Linked DNA regions of Homo sapiens: all the other regions are linked to region 3. The links come from fine-mapping of genetic effects on gene expression. A gene starts in region 3. Each other region holds a variant in brackets. All regions are shown on one strand. Distances are between the middles of the regions. Region 1 overlaps MAB21L4 (mab-21 like 4). Region 2 has its middle 6.6 kb from the start of MIR4786. Region 3 holds the start of NDUFA10 (NADH:ubiquinone oxidoreductase subunit A10). Region 4 overlaps NDUFA10 (NADH:ubiquinone oxidoreductase subunit A10).

What was found.
Region 1: its variant is fine-mapped to the expression of NDUFA10 in adrenal gland (GTEx, PIP 0.92).
Region 2: its variant is fine-mapped to the expression of NDUFA10 in whole blood (TOPMed, PIP above 0.99). The same link has a PIP of 0.9 or more in lung.
Region 4: its variant is fine-mapped to the expression of NDUFA10 in whole blood (TOPMed, PIP above 0.99).

The regions. Positions count from the first base shown.
Region 1 is chr2:240,884,895-240,890,041 of GRCh38, reverse strand. It overlaps MAB21L4 (mab-21 like 4), which reads left to right. Exons shown (of 5, transcript NM_001085437.3): 3 at 1-37; 4 at 1,394-1,750; 5 at 2,880-3,994. The coding sequence ends at 2,972. Among named protein-coding and RNA genes, the nearest start is that of MAB21L4, 8.7 kb to the left of the region's middle. The variant T/A (reference allele first, on the strand shown) is at 2,383.
Region 2 is chr2:239,947,081-239,952,227 of GRCh38, reverse strand. It overlaps a transcript of NDUFA10 not described here. Among named protein-coding and RNA genes, the nearest start is that of MIR4786, 6.6 kb to the right of the region's middle. RefSeq lists an enhancer at 573-1,072. The variant G/A (reference allele first, on the strand shown) is at 2,262.
Region 3 is chr2:240,022,294-240,027,440 of GRCh38, reverse strand. It overlaps NDUFA10 (NADH:ubiquinone oxidoreductase subunit A10), which reads left to right and starts at 2,099. Exons shown (of 10, transcript NM_004544.4): 1 at 2,099-2,214; 2 at 5,101-5,147. The coding sequence starts at 2,140. RefSeq lists an enhancer at 1,275-2,104 and a silencer at 1,913-2,172.
Region 4 is chr2:239,977,139-239,982,285 of GRCh38, reverse strand. The region is part of intron 9 of NDUFA10 (NADH:ubiquinone oxidoreductase subunit A10); the gene reads left to right. Among named protein-coding and RNA genes, the nearest start is that of MIR4786, 37 kb to the right of the region's middle. The variant CTT/T (reference allele first, on the strand shown) is at 2,689.

The DNA of each region.
Region 1 (5,147 bases), 860 kb before region 3:
TGGCCAGACTGACGGCCTGACCTTTGGCCACCTGAAGGTACCCAGGGCGGGACTCGGCGGGTTGTCTGTCACCAGGGCCCAGGGGTAGGTGCACCCAGGCGTGTCCCTCCTGCCAGCCCTGACTGGCAGGCAGCTGCTATGAGTCCCAAGTCGGAGTTGGGGGGATTCTGAGGGCCTGCCCAGGTTCTGAGGAGGTGAGGCCGTGGCTCCTGAGGGTCAAGGGAATGTGGCCGCGGGTGCCGTGGTGCCGCAGGCTGGCCTTCGCCATCCCTAGGCCGTGACCTCGGAGGCCCTCCTGGCCCTGGGACACTGTTGGGTAGAATCTCAGGGTGGGGCCTCACAGAGCCCAGTGTTCCCGCCCAGCCAGCCTCCTCCCAGTGTCTGGGAATGTCACCTGGCTGGGACACCTCCCTCTGGGGGTTCCCAGGAGAGTCCAGGCACACCCTTCTCTCTGCTTCCTGGGCCACAGTGACATTCTGCAGAACCCTGTCCTTCTGGGGCTTTGTAACATCAGATGCTGAGAAGAACAAGGAACAGGCAGGGGCCAGGGATTCCAACCCACCCCAACCCCGAGGAAGCAGGTGGGGGCTGTGCTGTCTTGGGGTCTGCTCGGCTGGCCCCTTCCTGGAGTGTGTGGCCAGCCGGGCGCTGCTCCACAGATGGGGCTGGCCCCTCCACCTGGCTCAGTGTTGAGGGAGAGGTGCCCCTCCTGGTGTCCGGAGTCCCTAGGTGACCTCTGGCCATGCCCTCTCAGGCCCCCACCTGACCTGGAGCTTCCAGCCCCCCTTGAGGTTGGATGCATGGTGGTTCCCAAGCCCCAAACTCAACTGCAGGGTGAGAGGCCATGGGAGAAGAGGGTTTGAAAAGCCGCTGTGAGACAGGGCCTGTGAGACAGGGCCTGGGGCAGGATGGAGGGTAAGGGTGTCTGGAACGGCCGCAGGCAGCTCAGGTCTTGTGGTTCAGGCCAGGGGTCATGAGCACACAGGCTAGGACTGTGACAATGCCATGGGCCCGTTGGGTTGGGCTGCAGGGGGTGAGTAGGAGCTCAAAGGGGCGGAGGGAAGGAGAGAAAGGCCCAGAGGATGCTGGGAGCTGCAGAGGCCCCCAAGGGAGGTCCTGGGGGGTGAAAGGAGGAGCTGGGGTGGGGTGCGAGGGCCAGAGCCAGGCAGGGGAGGAGAGAGAGGGGTTCATGCCTTCGGGAGCCAGCAGGCTGGGGGCAGCGGGTGGGAGGGGCCTGGGACTCCGACTGGGACGTGGAGGGGAGGGCACAGGGTAGGAAGAGGTGTGGGTAGGAGCAGGGAGGGGCAGCCAGGGTGAGGGTGGGAGCGCAGGGTGGGAGCACAGGGTGGGCCGGGTGGGCCAGGAGGCCAGGGCTGACCCTGCTGTCCTGCAGATGGTGCTGCTGTGGGCCTCTGTGCTCTTCCTGGCGCCCGAGGACTGGGCAGAACTGCAGGGCGCCGTGTACCGCCTGCTGGTGGTGCTGCTCTGTTGCCTGGCCACGCGGAAGCTGCCCCACTTCCTCCACCCGCAGCGCAACCTGCTGCAGGGCAGCGGCCTGGACCTTGGTGCCATCTACCAGCGCGTGGAGGGCTTCGCCAGCCAGCCCGAGGCGGCCCTGCGCATCCACGCCACCCACCTGGGCCGCAGCCCCCCGCCGCGCATCGGCTCCGGGCTCAAGGCGCTCCTGCAGCTGCCAGCCAGTGACCCCACTTACTGGGCCACTGCCTACTTCGACGTCCTGCTGGACAAGGTGGGTGCTGGCTGCGGGGGCCTTGGGCAGGCCCGGGGGCATGGGAGGGTGGAATGGAGCCCTGGCCTGGCTCCCTGCCCATTCTCTCCCAGGTCAGCAGCCCCAGGAATGCTGAGGCCAGGTCAGGGCTCGGATGGAGAGCGTCTGCGGGGACATGTGATGTCTGGGGGTCACACGGGCCGTGGGGGTCCCCTCACTGGTGGCCTCACAGGGCCTGGGGCTTCTCCCTGGAACCAGGGCAGTGGGTCTGACCCTGCTTCTGTTTCCCACCAGAATTGCCCCCCAGCTCACACTTGGTAAATGCTCAGAGCCCCAGCTGCCCACCCTGGAGTTCCATTCCTCATGAAGGGATATGGCCTTACCTGGGCCCCAGAGGGACCATTTTTTTCTCCCTGGACTCAAGAATCCACAGCCGTGCTCCTTGGGACCCTGTGTCCCCTGGGCCACTTCTCGTGGGTGCCTGGAGGCTCCACCAACTGCCCCTCCCTGTGGCCCAGGCTCTGCCACCTCTGCTGAGCCTGCCTGGAGTCCACCCTGCTCCTCGCCCAGGGCCCGGCCCTCACCCTCATCCCAGGAGCAAACACAATCTCCTTCCAGGGCACAAACAGGGGTTTCTCAGCCACCCTCTCCTG[T/A]GTCCTAGTGGCAGTGAGGCCCCAGGGTAGCCACCCTCTGCTGGGCATCTCCTATCCTAATTTAGCAAACTTCCGCCTGTTGAGATGCTGATGGCCTCCTGGGGCCTCCCCTCATGCCCAACACTTAAGAATTTTTACCCCAGAGCCTGCAGATTAGGGGGCAAAGGCCATGCTCTGTGCTCTCAGCAGACCTGTGTGGGCAGGGTGCGGTGAGGGTGGGGTGGTCACCGGAGGCAGCCTTCAAGCAGCACCGTGTGGGGCCTCCTCCTCAGTGTAGGCCCATGCCAGGGACGCCGTGTGTGAGGAGGGGCTCAGGGAGCAGCAGAGGCTGGGGCCGCTCCGCCTCTAGGATGCCTGTCCAGGCAGATACCCGGGGCAGGAAGGCCCGGCATGGCCCAGGGAGGGCCAGTTGTTCCACGCTGTGCTCTCGGCCCTGAGAGCTTATCATGGGCTCCAGGGGTCCCTGTAACCCTTCTCCCCTGCAACCCTGCCTGTAGTTCCAGGTCTTCAACATCCAGGATAAGGACCGGATCTCTGCCATGCAGAGCATCTTCCAGAAGACCAGGACTCTGGGAGGCGAGGAGAGCTGAGCTGGGCCACCTGGTCTCAGCCACCTGTTCTTGGCTCCCCAACAGACTCTGCACTGCACCATGGGAGGCTCCTGGGATGTTTGGAAGAAGAAACGGGCTTCTCCTTGAGGGGGTAGTGGAGGGATTTTGTCCCCAGCAGTGGCCTCTGAGAGTCTTTCAGTGCCTGGTGGGGCAGGGCAGGCCTCTTGGAGCACCTCCTCCCTGGGTCAGGGCCTGGATGCAGGTGCCAAGCTCTCCATGTGGTGCATGTTGACCCAGCCACGTGGTGTTGTCAAGCAAACAGCATCGGCAGGAGACCTGGAGCTGAGGACTTGGCCCTGCCTGCACTGTATGCCATTCCTTGGTGACGAAATGCTGTATATTTGGTTTTGAAAAAATGAATGTGCTGGGTATACACAGCAGAAAGGGTACTGTCCACTTTTTGTATATCAGTGTGGAAAATATTTCCCCTAGAAGTAGAAAAGGCTCATGTGCTGATGGATAATTTTGAGTCTTCTCCATTCTCTGTGAATGACCCCCTTCCCCAGGCATCCCCACCTCCTACCTCGTTCTTAGAGCAAACTAAAGCCAACTGAGGGTGCACACACAGCCATGAGCCCACCTGCCCAGGACTACTCCCATCTGCTTCTTCCCGTCCCCGTGGAAGTGGCCCCTGATATGGATTGTATCTGTATCCCCACCCAAATCTCAGGTAGAATTGGATCTGTGTCCCCACCCAAGTCTCAGGTAGACTTGTAATCCCCAGTGTTGGAGGAGGGGCCCAGTGGGAGGTGATTGGATCATGGGGGTGGATTTCTCCCTTACTGTTCTCATGATAGTGAGTGAGTTCTCATGAGATCTGGTTTTTTGAGTGTGTGGCCCCTCCCCCTCTCCTTTTGCTCTCTTCCTCTTTCTCCGGCCATGTAAGATATGCCTCCTTCTCCTTCACCTTCCACCATGATTGTCAGTTTCCTGAGGCCTCCCAGCCATGCTTCCTGTATAGCCTGCGGGACTGTGAGTCAATTAAACCTCTTTATTCATTACCCAGTCTCAGGTAGTTGTCTACAGCAGTACAAGAACCTACTAAACATCCCCCCTCTCTGATGTAAGGTGTCCTCTCCTGGCATCTGATGCCACCCCCACTCTGTCCTTACCATTCTTTGTGCCCACAACTCACATTCTCTCATCAGCCCAGCACTGCCTGCCTGCAGCCCATGACCTGCATGGGTCCTGCCCATTGGACATTTCCTATTCTCCATCTTTGGCCTCTCAGGGGCATTGACCCCTCAGTGCCTGAGCCACAGCTCACACCTTTGGCTCTTGGAGGGGACCTGCAATTCATGCAGCAGCAGCTCCCTGGAGCCTCCTTGAAAGGGACCTCTGGCCATCTGCCAGAGGAAGCACAGACTCACGACAGGAGATGCCCAGGCCCCTTGAAGGCTGCAAGATCCAGGGCCTGAGCTGACACACACAAAAGGGGACACAAAATGCCATCACTCCTCCCCCATTAGAATGGGGGCTGGTAGAAGCAGAATCTTGGTTCACATCTGATTCATAATGGAACCGAAGGGCCAGGCCCACCCTGTGGCCATCCCCTTGGCATTTGATTGTGAAGCAGGGTGGCTGTACATTGCAGGAGTAAGAGCTGGAATAGCAGGAAGGGCCAAGGGGAAGTTTATTGCAAAATCATCCCTATTCCCATGGCCAAGATAACCCAGCAAAACATACCACATCCTGGGTGTACTAACGGAATTTAGTTCTACTTTCAGAGACTTTAATTCACCAATATGGCCCCAGTAGAAGCCAGATGGATTATGGTGAATGGTAGTGGGTTACATAAACTTAACCAAGCTGTAACCCGTAGTCCAGGTGCTGTGCTAGACGTGGTATCCTTAGTACAACAGGACAGCAGGGCCTCTGGAACTTGTATGTGGTCACTGGCCTGGGAGAAAGGCATTCTTTCCAATCCCCATCAGAGGGGAGGCTCAGACACGGTTTGCATTCACTTGGAAGAGATAACATTATAAGTTCACTGTCTGGCCCAGACTGATGTTAACCCTCTCTTCTCTGTCACAATGTAGGCCTAATGGGCCTTCATCACCTGGATGGTCTATAGAATATTACGCTGGTTCACTGTATTGATGACATCATGCCAATTCGAACTGGAGAGGATTGACTGGAAAGTTCTTTGGATGC
Region 2 (5,147 bases), 75 kb after region 3:
ACCACCCAGTCCTTCATGCAGCCTTTCCTCTCCCTGGGCTTGCAGGTCTGCCCCACCAAGCCCCCATTCCAGGACGCAGCCAGGCTGTCTGCCCTCTGCGAGCAGGTGTGGCACATGTGTTGCTGGTTCATCCCGTGGGCTCACAGGCGGCTCCTGTGCAGACCTCTAGTGGGTGTGGGACTTCAGGCAGCAGCCTTTGGCCCCTGCCGGCCCACACCCCAGGACCCATGCCACAGCACCTACCGAGGGAAAGAGACCAAAGGGCATGCACCATCTCAGGTCTCGAGAGGGACAGAGCCAGGCAGGAGCCTGGGCAGGCGTCAGCAGGGCCCTCGTGTTCCTGGGTCCCACTGTCCTTCCCGCTGCCCAGGGCATGGCCAGGCCGGAGGCCTCGGTGTGCCGTTGGGACCAGGCCTGGGAACCCCTCTGGCTTGTTTCCCCTTTTTAGTTACACAAATACTTTATGATCACTTCTGAAAATTTAGGAATTTTAGGAATGAACAAGGAAGATAGCTTTAGAGTTATATACATTTTCTTTTACTTGCCATTAGAGTCTTCCTAGACCCTGTTTTTTAAAGATGCCTGACTCTCCACGCCCGGCTGTGACCAAGCCTGCCGCCCCTCCATCATAGCTGCTTCTCAGTGTCCGGCACATCCTGTACTGGGTGCTGAGGGGACCCAGGGAGGGTGTGGCGAGAGGAGGACCCTGACCAGGCATCCCTGGGACACGGCTGCCCAGCACGGGCATTTTTTCTTTTATGGAGGCTCAGAAGTGAGGCCTGAGAACACAAGAGAAACGGCCTCGTTAGACCCTGGCCCCACTTTCTTCCCAATCTCAACCACCTTCGACGACTCAGTCATCAATGTCTGCGTCTCTCCCCCTGCTGTCCTCTGTAACCCACGGGTGGCTGACGCAGCCATTGTCCCTGTCTCCAGGGCAGCAGCACAGGAGCGTGTGGCCCTCCCGAGGCCCCTCCCGCACGCCCTGTGGGCACCCCGGGTCCCATCGCTGCAGGGTTCCCTGTCTCAATAGTAGCCTCTCCTTCTGATGTCTTGTGGTCAGATGTTTGCTGGAAAGGGCCCCAGAGCCCCAGTGAAAATCCAGACTCAGAGATGAGACTGAAACGGGAAGTGTCAGCATTGTTTTAGGGTTTTTCACTTCAAAAGCCAATAATCCTCTGAAGCAGGGCCCTTCTGCACTCCTTCCAGGCTCAGCAACTACCTGACAAAGGAACGAGGGGCTGAAGCGGAACGTACTGGAAGCCCTGGCCAGCAGGTGGCCAGTGGGACGCTGACTTGAAACCTCTTTGAAGCAGTCATGGGAGCAGTGGGAACAATTGCCCCGTAATTGTTGGACAGTGTCACACAACTAGACAGGCACCTACTTGAATCACAGAATGGAGCTGTGTGGTGTTTCTGTGACACTGGGATGAAGCTGCAGGCACGAGCAGGGGTCTGCACAGCCGACCACGGGGACAGACAGGCGTGCGGCTGCCACTCACCTGCACGTGGTGGCCATGTGACATGCACAGGCCCTTACACCGCCCCAAGCTCCTATCCGTACCAGTGTTGGAAGAAGCCGCTCAATCAGCAGTTGGTTTGCTTTGATTTTACCTTAAAATCCTGACGCTATCCTGGTCATAATGAGCTCTCATCCGTGTGTGGGGTCCTTACACCGAGGACACCAGGTCTAAACACAAGTGGGAAAGGTCAATGTTTACATCTACACTTCAGATGCCTAAAAACAGAGTCTTCGGGGAGCAAGGAGGAACCGTTCCTCAGATTTCCAAAGGTCATGCCCCGAGGGGGCAGCTTGGTGGACTGGAGCCGTCTGAAAAAGAAGGTGGTGGGTCGGGAGCCCTGAGCCTCCTGCTTGGGCCAAGGCATGCCCACAGGAGACCTCTTGCCCGCTCAAGGACTCGGGGGCCTGAGGGATCCCTGAGGAAGCTGTGAGTGGTGGGCAGCCGTCTGGCTGTAGGAGATGCATCATCTCAGCTTCTTTATAACAGGGCCAGCCTGTACTGCTGAGGGTGGACCAAAGCCACACAGCATGGGGCGGAGGGGCTATAAGGACTGGAAACCTTTCTAAATCTCTGCCACCACTTCGTGAGCCCACTCTGAGGTGTGCCCCCTCCCTAGATTCTCACAGCAAGCTTGGCTGCAGGTGGGGACGGCCTGATTTTTCTCCCATTATGTACGTAAGAAAATAGGCTCTAGGGTGGGACCTCCCCAGTCTCCCAGATGGAATGTGGTGAGTCCAG[G/A]TTCAGGCTCAGTCAGGGCTCTCCTGAGACCAGGACCCACAGGATGAACAGATATGGAGACAGTTACAAGGATTCTGGAGGCTCAGAAGCCCCAAGATCTGCTGTCTGCAAGCTGGAGACCCAGGAGAGCCAGTGGTGCAAGTTCCAGTCCAAGGGAAGACCAATGTCCCACCTCAACAGGCCAGTGTCAGGTATGGTGGCTCGCGCCTGTAATCCGAGTGCTTTGGGAGGCTGAGGTGGGAGGATCGCTTGAGGCTGAGTTGGAGACCAGCCCGGGCAACATAGATGAGGCCTTGTCTCTTCAAAAAGTAAAAGTGTGGTGGCACGCGCCTGTTGTCCCAGCTATGTGGGAGGCTGAGGTGGGAGGATTGCTTGAGCCCAGGAGTTTGCACTCCAGCCTGAGCAACAGAGAAGACCTTGTCTCTAAAAAACAAACAAACAAAAGCAAAAAACAAAAAACAGGCAGAGAGTGGGAATTCTTTCTTCCACCACCTTTCTGTTCTTTCCAGACCCCCAGTGGACTGGAGGATGCCTGCCCACGCTGGGGAGTGCCGCCTGCCTTCCCGAATCCACCAGGTCACATGCTGATCTCATCCCCCACAGATACACCCCAAAAATCTTGTTTGACCAAATACCTGGGCAGCTGTAGTCCAGTCGGGTTGGATGTCTAAAGCTGATCTGTACAATTGCTAACTCGCTTCGCCCTCCGAGCCGTGCATCTCACTCCTCAGACACAAATGCTGGTGCTCATTCCTGCCCCAAGCTCCTATCCGTATCAGTGTTGGAAGAAGTCGCTCAATCAGCAGTTGGTTTGCTTTGATTTTACCTTAAAATCCCGACACTATCCTGGTCATAATGAGCTCTCATACGTCCGTCCCAAAGAGGGACATGTGTCCATTGCATTCGTGGGGTTAAAGCAATGAGAAAGCCTGCAAGGCAGGAAGCTTGGGGTTGGGGGCTCCAGGGGAGCAAGGAAGGGTTGGGGGCTCCAGGGGCAGAAGGGGGTGCCCTGTGACTTCTGAGACACTGCATTTGAAGTAGAGAGCCTTCTCTTCTGGACTCCTGCACGCTTTATCTTTGTGTGAACTGTTCCCTGCAAAATAAATACACAGGCCTCTGCTGGCTCCTGCCTAGGCCAGGATGGCTCGAGGCTTGGTGAAGTCCCCAAGGAGGGAGGGCCACCTCGGCTGGCTCTAGTTTTTTCTGTCCCAGACACTGGAGGCCTGGATTTGTGGAAGATGAAGGGACATACTGAGTTGCGTCGTCAGGCTGGCATCTGAGCCACCTTTGCAATCCCTAGTTTGTCCTTGTATTTGGAACGCTGGAGGCTCGAGTCAGGATCCGGGTCCCACCGACGTGTATTTGTGCTTTCAAGATGGCTGGGGCTTTTAGCCTTGGCAGCTTTGCTCGGGCAGGCCTGCTGCTTTTTACATTGGGTTTTCCAGCGACTCCACTTACAGCTGCAAAATGGACAGTGGGCTGTAGACCCTGAACAACGTCAAGTGAGTGCATGTTTTGAACGCCTGTTACTTTTCCGTCGCCACTCATGGAGCGGAGGCTGTGGAGATGTCGGTTACTTTCTGTCCCCTGGGGGCTCAGGACCCAGCTGCAGAGCAGCCTTGAATGAGACCACAGGGAGCCTCTGAACAGGGCCTTGAGGGGCCAAAGGGAGAAGAGCAGCCTGGAGGCCATTGTCCGGAGCACAGCCTGGCTTCGTCTCTGGAATGCGTGGCTGAGGCTGGGAAGAGGGACGGACGTGTGGGCAGGGCCCAGGAGGTTCTAGCTCTTAAGTGTTGGTGGAAATGAGCTGCTATTTCCCTAAGAATTGTACACAATCCTGAACCTTGCTGCCGTTAACTGAACCTCTGGACTTTTGCTCAAACAGCTGTAGTGACGACAGAGCTTGTCCCCCGACCTCACCTCCTCCACCTCACCACCAGAGGATGTAAATTGGCTAACTTGGCCTCGGAAGACCAGCTTGAAGGGCAGGGCCACCTATGCACATGTGACCTCCATGTTCACCCAGTGCCCACGCTCAAGAAGGGCCCACACTTGATTTAATGTTCAGCTGTGGCCGTCCTGAAAGTCTGAACAAGTTTTGGACCAGAGCCTCCCGTTTTCATCTTGCACTGGGGGCCACAGGTTATGTCGCTGCCGTGGGCGTGTTGAGGCACCACCCCGTGCTTCCTGGAGCCCTCATCCCTCTTGCCATCTGGCAACAAGAGCTGGGCTGGCCTGTTGCATAGTCTTTGAGGCCTTCAGTGGATGGAGGAGCTCACGGCAGCAGGAAGGCCGGTGTGTGAGAGGAGCCCCGGGAGGACCCTCACAGGACCCTGGGCCTGGAGGCCTGGGGCTCGGCGGGGAGGGCGGGGCTTGCTCTGGGCCTCAGAGAGTCAGGAGCCGTCCCTGTCTGTGTCTGGTGCGCAGAGAGGGCGGGGCTTACTGGGCCCTGGTGAGGCAGGGACTGTCCCTGTCTGTATCTGGTAGCAGCTGCCTCCCGGTCTTTGTCCAGCTTCTTCCTTAGGCCGAGCATTTGGCTGTGGCTGCAGGAAGCCCAGCGGGGCGTGCAGAAGGCAGGCACACAGGACAGTCACTGAGCCATTTTCCTCTGTGGGCCTCAGGAGCTCTGTCCCTGGGGGCTCTGGGAGTTGGTGTGGGATGTAGGCCTTAGGCACCTGCATTGGTATAGGGCTGTCCTGGTATGACTTCTTGGTATTCCCAGGCTCGGATGCCTGCTGCCAGATAATGTCCAGGGCCTTGGTCTAAGCAGTGTGAGCAGGCGGGACGGCCCCAGATGGCCTGGCCTAGGCCTCCAGGGATTCTGTACCCATGAGGAAGGGGCTGCACTGCAGCCTGGATCCCAGCTCCTTACCCAGGATCCCACCC
Region 3 (5,147 bases):
GACGGGGAAGTATATAGTAATACTTCCCTTGAACCAGTAAAACTGTAATGCCCAACCTGGTTTTTACTAACTGTTTTCAGACTCTCCCTTTTCCTTTAATCACCTAGCCCTGTTTCCACCTGAATTGACTCTCCCTTAGCTAAGAGAGCCAGACAGACTCCATCTTGGCTCTTTCACTGGCAGCCCCTTTCTCAAGGACTTAACTTGTGCAGGCTGACTCCCACCACATCCAAGAATGCAATTAACTGGTAAGATACTGTGGCAAGCTACATCCGCAGTTCCCAGGAATTTGTCCGATTGATAACGCCCAAAGCCCCGGGTCTATCATCTTGTAATAGTCTTAAAGCCCCTGCACCTTGAACTGTTTACTTTCCTGTAACCATTTACCCTTTTAACTTTTTGACTACTTTACTTCTGTAAAATTGTTTTAACTAGACCCCCCCCCCTTCCTAAACCAAGGTATAAAAGTTAATCAAGCCCCTTCCTCGGGGCTGAGAGAATTTTGAGCGTTAGCCGTCTCTCGGTCGCCAGCTAATAAAGGACTCTTAATTCGTCTCAAAGGTGGTGTTTTTCTAACTCGCTCAGGTACAACAAAACATCCACGCAAACAGGTTGTGAGAAGTTACGTCTGCGTGCTGTGATACCTAGAGGAACCACTACGAAAACTATACATAATGATATTTCCCAAGACATTATCAGTAAATCAAGATGGAATTCTAAAAAAATGTACTGTATCCATTGGAAGGCACAAAAAAAAAAAAAAAAAAAAAATGCAAAGGAAACAAGGCAAAAAACAGCAGACATGAACCCTAAAGCTTGTTAAATGGATTTCAGGTGCCCTCCAGGATCTAAAAACCAGACCCTCCTGCGTTGGGGACCGGGAATCCGTATTTTTGACAAAAAGCAATTCTTCAATTATAGAAACATCCATAGAACCGGCCGTAGTTTACACAGCTGCATTCCCACTGTTTTACAATCGCATGATCATTTCTGAAAAGTTGAAAACAAAGTTAAAGAATATTTAAGGGGTTAAGAACAAAAAGCCTGGGGAACACAAAAGATTATAAAAACCCTTCCCAACAGCAGGCATACTTGGAAGGAAACCTCACATGCAAGGCTCCTTCGTGGAGCCCAGAGCCCAGGTCCTGACGGGAGCACATTTTAAGAGATGGACTTGCCGGCGCGGTGGCTCACGCCTGTAATCCTAGCACTTTGGGAGGCCGAGGCGGGTGGATCACGAGGTCAGGAGATCGAGACCATCCTGGCTAACATGGTGAAACCCCGTCTCTACTAAAAATACAAAAAATTAGCCGGGTGTGGCGGCGGGCGCCTGTAGTCCCAGCTACTCGGGAGGCTGAGGCAGGAGAATGGCGTGAACCAGGGAGGCGGAGCTTGCAGTGAGCGCGATGGCGCCACCGCACTCCAGCCTGGGCGACAGAGCGGGACTCTGCCTCAAAAAAAAAAAAAAAAAAAAAAAAAAAAAAAAAAAAAAAAAGAGATGGACTTGGAGCGTGTGCTTTTGTTTTCTATGCTATTCAATGTGTTCACAGCAGGTCCCCTGGATGAGACCACTTAGCCTTCAGCTCCGGAGGCGACCCAGGCCGGCCTTGCCAGGTCCCTCTCCCTGACAGGCGCCCCGCGACAGGGGTCCCACCCCGTCCCTCCGCTCCTCGCCCCCTCTTTTTCCACTTTCCCTCCCCAGCGAGAACGTTCTGAGAGCTAGGAATGTTCTCTAGGAGGTCGCTTTGACGTCCACACCGCGCCTGGGGGATTCTGCGGGGAGCACAGGACCCTGGGACGAGACGCAGAAGTCGCTCCACGCCCTGGGCGGCCTCAGCTCCCGCGACACCGCAGCAACTCAGAACCCAGGCAGGGGCCGGGCAGCCAGCATGCTGCCCCCACGTTCACCTCCAACTCCCACCTCTCGGCCCTCGCCCCAACCCGCAGGACCCTGGCAGCGCACTGGCTGTCTCCGCGGAAGCCCCCGAGGGCCTCGGCGCGGCCCCGCCCCCTGGAAGGTTCCCGACAGGCGCCGCGGGCACCCCGGCCGTGACGTCACGGCAGCGCGCCGGCCGCGAGAGAGGGCCCCGTCGCGACCGCGTCCCCTTGGGTCCTTGATCCTGAGCTGACCGGGTAGCCATGGCCTTGCGGCTCCTGAAGCTGGCAGCGACGTCCGCGTCCGCCCGGGTCGTGGCGGCGGGCGCCCAGCGCGTGGTGAGCGGGCGGCGGGGTGGCAGGGTGGCGGGGTGGCAGGGTGGCGGGGTGGCGGGGTGGGGAGCAGTTCCACATCTCCCCCGGCCTCTGGCGGCGGCTCCCAGGTCGCTCTCCGGGTGGGTTTGGGGGACCCCTCCTGCCTCCGGAATTGTTTGGTCTTTGGTCGTGGACAGACCTCAGGGGGCCACGAGCTTCTCCAGGCCATTTTATCTCAGCTTTAAGCAAAACGCTGGAGCGCGGAGGTGATCAGGGCCCCGAGGCTGCCCTGATGCGGGAGGCCCGTGTGCAGGTGGCAGGCCGGGGGCACACGCGCTTGTCATTAGATAATTCACGTAGCAGCCCTGTCAAGAGCCGTTTAAAGGTCGGGCCCTGCTGGGTGCTTGGGTGATGCCATGTTGAGCAGACACGGAGTTCAGTGCTTGTGTCCGCTTCCTTTTGCCTTTACTCTGACTGACTACTCTCATTTCTTAGCATTTTGCCCCCACCTTCTTCAGTGAAATCGTTTCATACATTTGTAACACAGTTGGATTGCTTTGTCACATTCTGCCTTACATCTTGGGATCCTTCTACCTAATGCGTTTTTTAAAATGTGCATACATTGAGCGCATTCTTTGTGCTATAAGGTTCTATGGATTTTTTCTTTGTGCTATAAGGTTCTATAGGTTTTGACACGTGTGTAATAGCATGTCTCCACCATTATAGGTTCGTACAGAGTAGCTTCACTGCCTTAAAAAATTCCCCTCTGCTTTACCTATTAAACCCTTCTTTTTCTCCAACCCCTGACAACCACAGATCTCATTAACATTTCCATAGTTGCCTTTTCTGGAATGTCATATAATTAGAATCATACAATATATTGCCTTTTCAGACGCCTTGAATACTTGGAAATATCTATGTAAGATTCACTTATGTCTTCGTGGCTTGGTAACTCATTTCTTTTTAATCACTGAGTAATATCTCATTGCATGGATGTACTTCAATTCATTCAGCAATTGAAGGGCATCTTGGTTGCTTCAAGTTTTTGGCAATTATGAATAAAGCTGCTGTAATCGTGTACATGCAGATTTCTTTTTGGAAATACATTTTTATATCATTTGGGTAATACCTGGAAGAGCGATTACTCATGTAGTAAGACTAGTTTTCTAAGAAGCTGCCAAGCCATCTTCCAGAGTGACTGTGCCATTTGACTCCCACCAGAAGTGAAGGCTCTCCTTGTTGCTCTGCGTGCTCGCCAGCATGCGGGGCTGTCGGTTACTTTGGATTGCTATCCATTCTGATAGCTGCGTAGTGGTATCTTGTTTCAACTTTGGAATATCTCATGATATACAGTGTTCATCTTTTCATATACTTATTTGCTATCTGCGTTAATTTCATTTGCGAGAGGTGTTTACATCTTTTGCCCATTTTTAAATTGGGTTGTCTGCTTTGCCTTGTTTTGTAACTTGTTTCTTCCTTACTCTTCAGTTATCAAATCAAGATCGAAAAATATCTTGATATTTCATATTCTCCTGTTTTATTTAAATTTCACTATAAAGTATTTTAATATTTTTGTGTTTTTCTGAGTACTTAGTATTCCATAATATGGATATGCCTTAATTTTGTTTAACTATTCCTCCGTTGTTGGACATTTAAGGGTTTCTATTTGCATTTTTGGTGTTACATCATACTTCATTGAGCATCCTTATAGGTCAATCTTATGTATATACTCTTTGAATGGATTCCTAATGCTGTAGACCCAGCGTCCTCTAGGTTTCATTACCATTAGCAGTTTAGGATGGTACTCATTGTCTTGTCCTAACTCTGTAATCATTTTTTAAATTATTTCTCATTTTGACACATGAAAAACTAATGTTTCCTTGTTAATAGTCTTTTGTTTTTTTGTAGCAAGGTTGACCACTTTTTCATGTGGTTTTTGGCTATATTTTATAATTTTAAAATAAGCTGTGTGTTTTTATTCTTTGTTTTCTTATTGTTCTGTACAATTTCTGTATATAGTAAGGTTATTACCCCATCATATCTGTTGAACTTCTTCAGTTTGTTTTACTTTTGGTTATGTTTCTTTTCTTTTTTTGGAAGGAATGTTCCCACTTTAGTGTGGAGAGTAAATTGGGCTGCTGGAGACAGGCATTGAAGCAGGTCTTTGCCTTGTAGATGAGAGGTGTGAGGGTGCCGACAGAGTCAGCACATGGCATAGGGAGGCGATGCAGTGTCCAGAGAGTCTGAACAGTTAGGATTTTGTGTGTAATTCTGCAGTTGAAGGAAGGAGAAAGGTATCAAAGACGACACTCAAATTTGCTCTCTTTTGCTTGTTAGGTAGTGGATATTCCTTGCTGTGAGGGAAAGCAGACTTGGGGGCTAGGATATGGATGTTGCATTTCACCTTAGCTCTGTTACCTTCAGGTGCCTTCAGGACATCTAGGTGGAGCTGTTTAATAGGCAGTGGGGTAACGAGGTCAGGACATGGGGACAGAAGCTTGGATTAGAGAAATGTTTTTTATTCCCTTCCCTTCACTCCTGAGCTTCCCTCCATCCCTGTCTTTCTTCCTCCCGTCTGTCCGTCCATCCATCCATCCATCCACCCCTCCCTCCCTCCCTCCAATTTTTATTGAACATAGTAAACATATTTAATAAAAATTTCAGGCATTGTTCCAGGGCCTGAGGATTTAGCAGTGAACAAACAGACAGTATATCTGCCTTTAACGAAACTTACATGGACAGAGTGGTGGGGGATAGACAGATAATTAAACAAATTAATAGGCAATAAAGATGTAGATGTTGGCATTTTTATCACTAAGAGGTTTCTTGGTATTTTTACCTAATAGTTACTAATGCCTACAGGAACCAGAGTGGTCACAATGTGCTGCTGTGTGATTTTGTGTTTTTCAGAGAGGAATTCATAGCAGTGTGCAGTGCAAACTGCGCTATGGAATGTG
Region 4 (5,147 bases), 45 kb after region 3:
AAAGAAAAGTAAAGTCGGCCTTTGTCAGAGGCGAGGTGAACAGAATTGTTTCGTCTAACCTTGTAGCTGGGGATCCCCTACCCGCAGCGGGCTGTGCAGAGTACAAGAGAGGGTCCTGAAGTGCTTCTCACTGGTCTTTGGAGGTGGGAAGACCTTCTCATCGGTCTTCAGGTACACGTGTCAGGTCACTGGTTTGCTGCAGGGGAGCAAACAGCATTTGAGGACATTCCACAGAACGTGTGACTATTAGAGCAGAAGGTAGTTGGCAGCCGGTTATTTCCTGGAGCAAGTGGAGGCCATGGATGCCTTTTCATGGCAGTGGTTCTTAGAAGCCCATTACCCTGCTAGGCAATTTCTCGCTTTCTGGGAGACTTTTTTTTTTTTAATGTTGAAAATATGTGTTTTAGCCAAATTCTGCCATTAACATGAGAATTTCTATAATCCCAATTAATTTTCTAAAAATAATAAAATTACTAAAACTATGCCTTATAATTTCATGAGAAACTTAAAATATACTTGCACTGTGCTTCTGTAAATAGGTGGTCTGTGTATTGTAACATGCCCAGGACGTTGCATGCATGTTTTATGATGGGTATTGTCCTTGTTGATACCTGGAGGTTAGGAGTTATTAGGTAGCACTTCTGATTCTTGGAAAACGAGTAATGCTTTGACCTTTATTCTTTAGATTAAGGATTATAGTCTTCGTTTTTCTTCCAGGATTTTCCTGATTTTTCTGACTTTAGTGTTTTTGTAGTTTTGTGAGATGGGTCTAGATTTGAATTTTTCTTTATGCCAGTGCTATTTGCATCTTGTTGGTAGGATCTTATTCCTTGTTGGTAATTCCCCCATTGCTTCTCTCTGTAGACATTTTAAACCTAGTTATTTTATGCTCTGTCTCTGGAGCGCTGCTCTGGACGCTGTCTGATCTTGTTCGTTGTTTCTTCTTTTTCTCACCCATGGTGGCTTCTTTTCTTGACTGTGTTGGAGACTTTGGGTACAGAGCTTCTGCCCTGTGGGGCTCCATCCATGGGCATTTGGTGAGAGTGGGTCCCTCCTGAGTCAGGTTGCCAGATGAAGTACAGGATGCCAAGGTAAGCTTGAACTGAGAGCAGCTAGTATTTTAGTATAAGTATGTCCCAAGGTTTTTAACCGGGTATCCTATATGATTTCTCAGTCCTGGCAGCCCTACTCCTGAAAGGACCCTTTGCTGCTGCCAGGCCTCAGATTCCTGAGGAGCAGGGAGGGATTGATGGCACCTTTGTTGCTTGTGGTATTCCAGGCCCTGGAGGTAATGCAAATTTCAACCCTCGAACCTGTGTGGAGAGAAGCTCTGGTTACGAATTCCCAGTGGAGAATGGTTTCACCACTGGGTGCCAGCTGGGGTCTCCTTGCTGGCAGGAGGCCTTCTCCCCGCACTGAGGTGTGGCCCTTCAGGAGTCACCTCACAGGGACACCAGGCCGTGTCTTGTGGCTCTCTGCAGCTCTTGGGCGTCCCGAGGGCACCGCGGCTTCAGCTCACCACTCTGGCTTTTCCACTCACTCTTCCTTCTTAGCCCTTTGTGATTTCTTGCGGAGCTCAGCTGTACATGTAGAAGCATTTCCAGAGGTTTTTATATCAAGAAGCTTTTCTGCATATTAGGGCTGCTGTTTTGCTAGAAATGGAAGGCTCCCCTATTTTTCTTTATAACTGGAAACCCTGTTTTGGTGCTGGTTCTTTCTGTAGCCATTCTGTGGAGGACCTGTCTGAATTAGAAAGTCTACATTTTATATACTCAATAGGTATTTACCCAATGAACAGTCCCCCAGAATGCAGAATTGATTAAATCCCCAACCCCGAAGGCACAGAAGGGAAACCTGGCTGATCAAAGAATTCTTGCCTTTTAATTTAATCTGAGTTCTATCCCAGAGATAGAGTCAGGCATCTTGGGAGTGCTAAGGTAGTAGGAATGACAGTTTATCCCAATACCTGCTGCCAAGCCTGACATTTCAGACCCCCTGCCCGACAGTGTCATCCCAGTGTCCTACCACTTCTGCACTTAGCCCTGATTAGATCTTTATCGTGCCAGGCACTGTTGTAAGCATTGGGGCCACACCCGAGAGTGAAGCCAAGCCCTGCCCTCATGCAGCTCACCTCCTAGTGGGCAGGGAGAACAGATGATAGACAGGTAACAGGGTGCCAGGGTCTTGGAGAAAGCACAGCGAGGAGGCTGCCATGTGGAGAGAGGTCTCAGGCACCTGACGCAGGGGACTGAGGGATGTGGGGGTGTAGGGGAGCAGGCGCCACAGGGGAGTGAGGGATGTGGGGGTGTAGGGGAGCAGGCACCCCCCGGAAGGCAGGAACAGGTGGACATGGTCTGGAGCTAGAGAAGAGCCCGTCATGGTGAGGTGTGATGCGGGTGGGGTGAGCTTGAGCAGGGAGTGAGCTGAAAAGGCAGCAGGCCAAGGTCAGCCGGGGTCCGCAGCTGCCACGGGGACCTCAGTTCAGCGGTACTCCTGGTGAGGTGGTGGCGTTGGTGCGCCAGAGAGTGGCATCATCTGGGTCTCAGGTTTAAAGGGTTGCTCTGCTTGCCACGTCGAGTATCAACTGTGGGGGCAAAGGCAGAGGGCCAAGGCGGTCAGGGAGGGTCCTGGTGGTGCAGGTGAGAGTGCTGGTGCTATGGGCGGGGGCGCTGAGAGTAGGCACTGTCT[CTT/T]TTCCCGAGAGCCCCCACTTAACAGGGGCATTGTTGCCCCTCCTTGCCCAGCCAAGTTGCTTCTTGCTTTTTAGGTTTTCAAAATTAAGCAGACTATTGCTGAAGGATTCCAGCAGAGGGAGTCAGGGAAGAGGTGCAGGGTGGGGAGCGGGCTGCTGAGGGCCTGGTGGTGGCCTTTCCTCACCGGACGGTGGAGCCCTGGGCCTCTGCTGTGTTGCCTCTCCTGCAGAGTTGTGTGTGTGACTGGAGGAGAGGGGTGGAGCCAGTTCAGCCAGCACTGGGGTCTAACTATAAAGCACAATAGAGACAGGTAGTGGCAGCTGGGTGGGGTGGGCTGTGGGGTGGGGTTCTAAGATAGGAATTTGCCGTTTGTAACAAAGGAACTTTGGTGTAAAGGCTTTAATTTAGGAATCCCAGGCATACTTCCTCATGGATCTTTTCCTGACCCTTATGTTTAATTTAATTTACTGATGGATGGATGAGCCCAGAAAGGGTTACACAGGAGCACACTTCTCAGGGAGTGGTGTGACGCTGGGGAGGCTCGCCCACCCTGTGTCTGAGCTAATTTCTGAAATCTGTTTGGAGCTTATATATTGAAACAAAGCCGTTATTCTAACTTTCACATGAAAAGAGCTCCATGTCTTTTAAGATACTTTTTTATTAGAGCTCAAGTTCTTTTATAAGCAGAAACTCCTTTTTTAGGTTTCTAAAAAGCATACAAACGGTGGGAAGACAGAATTCTTCCCCAAATCACCTACAGGTGGTTCGCCCACACCTATTTCAATAGACCTTATTTTAGCGACTCACCTTCATCAAATGGTTCCAAAGTGTTTCAGCCTAGTTTTAACAGAACAGCAGCTCTTCCTTTTCAGACGCGTAGTTTTCATAACATTTAATTAAATTTTGCAATTGCAATGACAAGTACAACTGGCGTCGCTGCTGGGAAACAGACCACTGACTCATACCACTTGGTGGGAGGGACAGAAGTGCCTGTGGGCCAGTGGGAGCAGGTCCTGCCACTTGGTGTCCTGTGTAGGCTGGCTTGTGAGTGATCCAATCGGGGTTGGTCAGAAGAGCTTTCTGCTGAAAGGAAGAAGAGCTGGTGAAGAGGACCAAGCTCGCCAGAGTATTAGGAGGCAGGCCAGACTGTGTGGGCCCTGGGCGCCAGCAGAGGAGCCTGTAGAGGAGCTTCAGTGTCTGTCAGAGGCCGCAGGAAGGTCAGGGGTGGTGAAGGTTGACCATGCCCAGGATACTGCGTTGATGACCAGGTCATAGGTGAACCTTGAGAGAAGTGTCAGGAGACTGGTGGGAATTAGAGATTCCATCTTCTATAGCTTGTTATTTTGTCTTGTTTTTAAGGGCTAAGGCATTCTCAGTGTGTTTATAGGCAAAAGGGTAAGTGCTTGTGGAAAGAGGGAAAAGATGCAAGAGAGGAATGGGACCGTTGATGGAGCAGGGATCCCAGAGGCAGGGGGGCCTCTTGGCTCCTCAGAGATCCCAGTTCACCAAGCAGGGATCCCAGAGGCAGGGAGGCCTCTCAGCTCATCAGAGATCCCAGTTCACCAAGCAGGCGTGGCCAGGCCAGATCACTGTTTGTTTCATAGGACCCCAACCTAGTCTGCTGAGGGGAGGCTGGAGGGGTGGGTGAGGGCTCTTTCCTCCCATGGGGAGACACTCTGTTGGATTGGCCATGTGTGGAGTGGAGGCACAGAACCTACATCCAGGGTGCTGCGAGCGTAGCTGAGAAAGCCAGCTGACCCATGCTGGGTGGTTGACCAGGCCCAGTGACCACGTTGGCCATTGTCATTGAAGCATCTCATTCCTTGATTAAAATCCACTGGTGCTCTTCACATCACAGGGCCAGTTCCAGACAGTAGATTACAGCCATTTGATGTGTCATATTTACGTTCTCCTAGCGTGAAAGCAGCAGTTTGTGTGCTTAACATTATAAATATACATGGTTGAACATCCTGGATGTGATGGCTAATGAGTCTCTCTGGAACAGATTGGTTTTGGAGATGTCTTGACTGGCCTTTAAGGGGCACGGTCGTCCAGCTGTGGAGCACTCGTGGAGTCAGATCTCCACACAGTGGTTCAGGTCCCTGTGAATCCTCTCACCTGCGTGAAGGGCCTGGCTGCCTCTTCTAGGTGTCTGGGAAGCCTGCTCTTTCCCATCAACTGCACCCTTAAATGGGGACTCCAGAAACAGGAGCAGTGTCAGGGGCGAGTTAGAGGGCCTAGCACGCCATACTCAGGGACAGTGGCGGGACGCTGGCAGGAGCAGTGGCAGCTCATGGGGCTCCGGATCCCAGGTGCCTGTGCTCGCCCACCTGCACCTGCCAATGGATGGGTGACTTTGAACAACACGAGAAGACGGCAGTTGGGGTCCAGTGGCCTTCGTTACTGTTAGGAAGAAGGTCCAGTTGCCCATTCTAGACTTGCTGTCTCTCTTGTCTG